Linked DNA regions of Homo sapiens. The protein of the gene in region 2 purifies or fractionates together with the protein of the main gene of each other region. This does not show direct contact. Each region holds a gene or a part of one and is shown on either strand. Other genes may lie near its edges.

Region 1 (3,823 bases), on a different chromosome or scaffold from region 2:
TAGTGAGATCCTGACTCATTAAAAAAATAAGAAACCTTTTTAATTAAAATTCTTAACCTGACTTACAAGAACTGCTTCCTAGACTTCCTCCTGGTCCCTCTTCGGTGTATATAGTGTAAACATGTACCTACCATTAGGTATCATACGCAAGTTTCACTGCCCTAAAGGCAGTGAATTTTACGTGTACAATTCCATAAGAGTTGATGCGTGTCATTATACATTTGTCCAAACCATAAAGTACAAGACCAAGAGTAAACCCTGATATAAACTACAGGACTTTGGGTGATGAAGCGTCAATGTAGGTTCAATTTTAACAAACGTATGGCTCCGTGGCTCTGTGGGGATGTTGACAATGCGGGAGGCTATGCATGGGTGGAGGTAGGAGGTATACAGGATATCTCTTATCTTTAGCTCAATTTTGGTGTGAACCTAAAAACTGCTCTAAAAAAATGACTATTTTTTAAAGTCCTCTGTGCTACCCCAATTCATCCAACTCCTGATCTTTTTACTGTCTCCATAGTTGTGCCTTCAAGAATGCCATATAGTTGGAATCATACAGCCTTTCCTTCAGTTAATAATATGCATTTAAGATTCCTCCATGTCTTTTCATGGCTTGATAGCTCATTTCTTCTTAGCACTAAATAATATAATATCCCATTGTCTGGATGTACCGCAGTTTATTTATCCATTTACCTACTGAAGAACATCTTGGTTGCTTCCAAGTTTTGGCAGTTATGAATAAAACTGCTATAAACATCTGTGTGCAGGTTTTTGTGTGGACATAAATTTTCAATTCATTTGGGTAAATACCAAAGAGTGTGATTGCTGAATTATAAGTGTTGAGTTCTGTAAGAAACTGACAAACTGTCAGTTGGATTTTTAACTGGTTTCATTCTTTCCTATTCTTGTGTGTCTACAGTTTTATATACTGTTCAAGCTGTTCTCTTTCATCACATTTAAAGACTCTGAAACAATTACTATTTCATTTTACACTCACTTTACATCTGCAAAGTGTGGTAAAACACCCAAAAATGAGGGAAAACCTAACTAATAAAGAAGTTAATATCCCCAGACGGGCTGAAAACTAGTGTAACGTGAGCGAGTATTTGATTTGTGACTAACTTTACTAAAAGCAGTAGGTTCATTCACTTTCATATTATGATTATGACAACTTTCTTGCCTCAGCTGCCACAGTTTAGGAAACCTACACAATGAATATTCTGAAAATAAAGTCTCCCTCACTCACCTTAAACCCATACTCAATAAAAAATGAATACATATATGAAACACATTTATCAAAATTAGCAAACAGACTTCAGGTGTTTTAAAAAGCAAAATTTTAACATATGGAACCCTAATCTCTAATTGAACCCTATCACAAAATGAGTTATGTTTCATGGTTTGGGAGTAGGGCAAGAAAAAAGTTAAGGCCATTAATTAAATACCAAACAGGAAACACTAATGCTGTTCCACTCCATCCCACCCACGTACCAAAAATGTTTAAATAACTTAAGGCTCTTTGTTCCCTGATTTAGCAATAAAATGTTTATGGAATTCCACAAATCTACCTACTTGACAAGACAGATTTACACACTGGATTATTTACTTTTCTAAAACAAATTTAATTGTGCAAAAATTCAGGCTATACATCTTATCACATCAAGAAGTGCTAACACTGCTATCTATATATGCTATTTAAATGTGATACACTGTAAGGTACCAGAAAAAAGAATACTTGTAATACACACATATACAGCCTTGACCTTTGTATTGTATTATTGAACAAGTGCAAGAAATATATTTGGCCTAGCAAATGGGAACTAAGTAGCTGATAAAGTCCATTTACATGGCAAAAACCAATTCTTAAGACTGGCAAACTTTTAAAAATGCAATACTGACGTGGTGCTTTGAAATAAAATCTGCAACAATCATTGTCATAATCACACCTAAATGTATATAGTGATTGCTATGTGCAAGACAGTGTTCTAAGCACTGTAAATTAACTCACTTGATCCTCACAACTGAGTTCAGGTACTTTTTTTTTTTTTAACTTTTTTTTTTTTTTTTGAGACAAGGCCTCACTCTGTTACCCAGGCTGGCATGCATTGGTACAATCATGGCTCACTGCAATCTCGACCTCCCAGGCTCAAGCAATCCTCCTACCTCAGCCTCCTGAGTAGGTGGGACTATAGGCATATGCTACCACACCTGGCTTTTTTTTTTTTTGGTTTAGTTTTTTGTTTTTTTTTTTGGCAAGGGAGTGGTTTGGTAAATCAGGTAGGCTGAGCGACTCCCAATTTTGTTTATTTTTTGTCAAGATGGGGTCTCACTCTATGTTGCCCAGGCTGGTCCTGAACTCCTAGGCTCAAGCAATCTTCCTGCCTCGGACTTCCAAAGTGCTGAGATTACAGGTGTGAGCCTCCACACCAGGCCATATTATCCTTTTTCAATTTTTTTTTTTATAAATAAGAACATTAAGGCCAGGCGCAGTGGCTCACGCCTGTAATCCCAGCACTTTGGGAGGCCGAGGCAGGCGATCGCAAGGTCAGGAGTTCAAGAACAGCCTGGCCAACACAGTGAAACCCCGTCTCTACTAAAAATACAAAAAAATTAGCTAGGCATGGTGGCAGACGCCTGTAATCCTAGCTACTCACTAGGCTGAGGCAGGAGAATCGCTTGAACCCTGGAGGCACAAGTTGCAGAGAGCCAAGATTACACCACTGCACACCAGCTGGGGCGACAGTGCGAGACTCTGTCTCAAAAAAAAAAAAGGAAATAAGAACATTAAGACCCAGAGAGGTAAATAAGTTTACCAAGGTCACACAATTGAGAGTAGAAATCAGGATCCAAACCTAGGCAAGCTGTCTTAGAATTCCAGGCTCTTAACACTATGTTTTACTATCTCTATTTCATTTTTGGTTCATTCATATGTTTTATGCATTCACAGGAATAAAACAATATTCTACACACATCACCAGTAGATCCTTCTGGAAGATTTGTATGTTGTGGTATGTAAAAGCATTCACTACATCTTTGTAATATACTACCTTTTTTCTAGAAAATGTACATTTGATGACTGGGAGCAGTGTCTCACACCTACAATCCCAGAACTTTAGGAGGCCAAGGCAGGAGGATCACTTGAGCCCAATAGTTTGAGACCAGCCTGGGCAACATAGGGAGACCCATCTCTACAAACAATAAATAAATTTTTAATTAGCCAGGCCTGGTAGTGCGCACCGGTAGTACCAGATACTCAGGATGCTGAGCTGGGACAATCACTGAGCCCAGGAGGTTGAGACTGCAGTGAGTCATGATCACACCACTGCACTCCAGCCTAGGTGACAGAGCAATTAAAAAAGAAAATGAACATTGGAAACCTTCTAGTAATCACAAAAACTAAGTGCAAAACTGTCACTTTCTGGGTTTTTCCAAATTATCAAAGACTGGTAAAATTCTTTTTTTTTTTTTTTTTTTCAAAGAGACAGGGTCTTGGCCAGGCGTGGGGGCTCACACCTGTATTCACCAGCACTTTGAGAGGCCAAGGCAGACAGATTGCCTGAGGTCAGGAGTTCGAAACCAGCCTGGCCAAAATGGTAAAACCCCATCTCTACTAAAAATATAAAACTTAGCCAGGCATGGTGATGGGCGCCTGTAATCCTAGCTACTAGGGAGGCTGGGGCAGGAGAATCACTAGAACCTGGGAGGCGGAGGTTGCAATGAGCCAAGATCACGCCACCGCACTCCAGCCTTGGCAACGAGAGCAAGACTCCATCTCAAAAAAAAAAAAAAAAAAAAGGAAAAGAACACTAGGGACACGGTCTTG
Region 2 (3,823 bases):
TCCCTTACCACCCCTCCCACTTCACAGAACAGCAGGAGGATGGAAGCCAGGATCAGCACACTACAGACCAGGGGCCAAATTTGGCCTACAGCCTGTTTTGGTTTTGTACAGTCTATGAGCTAAAAATGTTTTTTTCATCTTTAAGTGGTTGGAAAAAGAAACAGTATTTCATGATACTGAAAATCAGATGAAGTTCAAGTGTTATATCCATAAATAAAGTTTTACTAGCACACAGCCACACCCACTCGTTGATGTATTGTCTGTGGCTGCTTCCGTCCTACAAAGGCAAAGTAGAATAGCTGCAAGAGAGGCTACATGGCCTGCCCTGCAAAGCTTGAGATATTTACTATCTGGCCTTTTACAGAACAAGTCTGCCAGTCCCTGGTATAGATCATCGTCTTATTTGTTGCTTAAAACCCTTCAGTCACTTCCCACAGTTTCTAGGAAAAAGTCTAAAACTTTTCACAGAGCAGACAAAACTGTTCTTGAAGGACAGTTGGCAAACACATGAGTCCCGACCTCTCTCATTACTCACACCTCACCCTTCTCATTCACTCAGTGAGCCACACTGCCTTTCCTTTAAAGACAATTCTCCCACCACCCCCATCCCCACTTGATGATCAAGTTAGCCCTGCCTTTGATTATTTCTCTCAAACACCTATCCCAACTGTATTTAAGTAACAATCGTGTAGTAGCTGATTAAAGACTGCCTGCTCTGGAGCCACTGCCTGAGTTCAAAATCCTGGCTTTGTCACTTAACAACAGTTTGACATTGGGCAAGTCACATAAACTTTTTGTACTTCAGTTTCCTTATCTGCAAAATAGGTGTAACAACTGCACCTACCCGAGTTTAAAGGCTATTAATACATGTGCATTAAGATTGTACCCCATAACAGTAAATGCTTCAAAAGCACCAACAATTATTATTCTCAGTAGCAGGAACAAGTTCCTGTGGCTCTCAACTAGACTGAAGCTCCTTGAGGGCAAGGATTATAACTGTCCTAGCTTTTGTGACTGGTACAAAGTAGAGCATTTATTCAAATGCTTAATGAACACCTAATTTGAATAACACATAACACTCACAAACTGTCCTCTTCAACCAACAGTTGCAGTGATTCAATCTTTGGGGGCCTGGCCCAAATGTTCTCTTTCAAACAAATGCCAAATGTGATTGAGATTTTAAAGCCAGCAAAATACAGGTGCAGTGGCTCAGCCTGTGATCCCAGAACTCTGGGAGGCTGAGGTGGCTGGATCGCTTGAGTCCAGGACTTCGAGACCAGTCGAGGCAACAAGTAAGACCTCATGTCTACAAAAAAATAAAAAAATAGCCAGGGCATGGTGGCACACACCCATAGTCCCAGCTGCTCGGGAGGCTGAGGCGGGAGGATCCTTGAGGCTGGAAGGTTGAAGCTGCAGTGTGCCGAGATCGCGACATTGCACTGCAGCCTGGATGACACAGTGAGACTCCGTCTCAAAAAATAAAAAATAAAAAAAAAAATAAAGCTAGCAAAATAGGCAGACACATTTATATCTAAGACACAGAAGTCTTAGAAAAGCATTTCATCTCATAAAACTGTATTAACTGTAAAAGCCCATATTTGCATCCCCATTCACAAATTATGTACTATGCCATCAGGTAGTTATTAACATTCAACTCTCAATCCTGCAAAAGGTGGGATGGTGTATCTTGCTAAAACACCAACTTCTCTTTCAAATGTCCATGAGGAGTCCTTCTGCAAACATGTAAGCACAACAAAAAGAGAAATGCGGGAGAGAAAGACTCAATTCTACTACAGATAAGACGCAAACCAAGCAAGCATGACACTTCGGAGTGAATTCTATCACTATCTTTAAACTGCCCTGCTTTCTTAACTTGCCCATAAGAGCACAACGTAAAGGCTTTTCTAGCACTTCCTGTTCTAAACTAATACCAGTTTAGATTTAAAGCTCCAATCCTACAGGAACTCCTTTTTTTTTTTTAATAACCAGAAGCCCAACATATATTGAAGAAAATTAAAATACTAAAATAGTATTCCAGAACCTTTAAAATGTTAGATTTCTTTTTTTTTTTTTGAGATGGAGTCTTGCTCTGTCGCCCAGTGGCGCGATCTCGACTCACTGCAACCTCCCCCTTCGGGTTCAAGTGATTCTCCTGCAGGCCTCAGCCTCCCTAGTAGCTGGGATTACAGGCGCCCACCACCACGCCCAGCTAATTTTTGTATTTTTAGTAGAGACAGGGTTTCGCCAGGTTGGCCAGGCTGGTCTCGAACTCCTGACCTCAGGTGATCCACTCGCCTTGGCCTCCCAAAGTGCTGGAATTATAGGCGAGAGCCACTGCGCACAGCTGATTATATTTAAAAATCAATCCAGCAATTCATGTTAAAAGGACTCAGCAGTTTGCATTCTCACAGTTAGCAAGAATGACGTGACGAAGATAGACCGTGAGTACTGTATCAATGTTAAGATTTCATTTGGTACTTCAGAATAAATTAGAACTAAGAATGAAGGTTCCTTCAAGTATGATCCCTAAAGATTTCATAATACTCTCACTTGCACAATCATGTGCAAGTTCAGTTCTGATTTATTCAAGTAACTAAGAACAATCCAGCCATGGACACTATTACAGTTGTTTGCGAACTTGTTATTCTGAATCTTCACCCAAGAAAAGCATTGTGCATCTCTGACCTTCCACAATCACAGGTAGAGGTGGCAGTGTCTCATTCTGTGATAAAGTTGCTATTTTTACTTGTGTACTCCTCCCCACCTTCATCCTGATACTCGTATTTAAAAACTATATTATTAGTATATGGGTCTCTGGTATCCTGCTACTCTTTGCAATTTTCACTACTCTCTGGGAGCCTCGCCATCACCAGGTCCAAACACAACTCATCCAAAAATGCAACACAATCAGAGGCCAAACCAATAGGCACACAGATATCATAACTCTCCTGATGTTCTCTGGCCTCCCTCGTGCTTCCTTCCATTCTAACCACGCCAAGTTCTTTCCTGCCTTGCCATCTTTGTCTCTCACAACGCTACAGGGCCTCTCCTAGGAGGCTCTTCTAACACTGTGGGAACCATATCGCTGTGAACAGCATTTAGGATGCAGTCACTGTCAATTCGATTTTGCACAGCAGTGAACAAGATCCTAGCTTACAACAGTTTAATGGTTCTCAAAGGGTGGTCTGTGGACCTCTAAGGGGTTTACCAAAATCTTTTCAGGGGTCTCATGAGGTCAAAACGATATTCATAGCAATATTAAGTTATCATTTGCCTTTTCCACAAAGTTCCCATTTGTACTAAGGGTGCAAAAGCAATGGTAGGGAAAACTGCTAGCTCGGCACCCCTTGGCATGAATCAAAAACAGTAGTTACAAACTGAGTGGTAAGTCACTGTATTCTTTACTACCATGCATTCACAGTGGGAAAAGAGCTGTTTCTACTTAACAGTGTCCTTGAAAAAGCAGTAAAATTATATTAAATCTTGACCCTTTGGTACCTGTCTTTTTAATATTCTGCACGACAAAATGAGATGTACACATAAAGCACCTCTGTTACATACTGAAGTATGATGGTTGTTTCCAAAAAAAGCACTTGTGCAGTCATTTGAGAAGTGATCTGAACTGGCCACTTTTATCATGGAATGCCTTTTTTACTTGCAAGAATGATGACAAACTATCATTATTGCAAATGTGAATAGCTGGCAGACATTTTCTTGGAAATTAAAGAAACAAAACAGTCAATTCAAGTAAAAACTGGTAGCATGTTGCCAAGGAAATTATTTGAACTCAAGGAGGAAATTAGAATTTTGGAAAACTTGCACC

The links.
Region 1: the proteins of RHEB (region 2) and NUDT9 fractionate together in Homo sapiens (co-fractionation; one large-scale study listed by BioGRID). This does not show direct contact.

The regions. Positions count from the first base shown.
Region 1 is NC_000004.12:87,425,364-87,429,186, reverse strand, and holds part of NUDT9 (ADP-ribose pyrophosphatase, mitochondrial isoform a precursor), read right to left. Parts: intron 1-3,823.
Region 2 is NC_000007.14:151,509,605-151,513,427, forward strand, and holds part of RHEB (GTP-binding protein Rheb), read right to left. Parts: intron 1-3,823. UniProt on the Homo sapiens protein: Small GTPase that acts as an allosteric activator of the canonical mTORC1 complex, an evolutionarily conserved central nutrient sensor that stimulates anabolic reactions and macromolecule biosynthesis to promote cellular biomass generation and growth.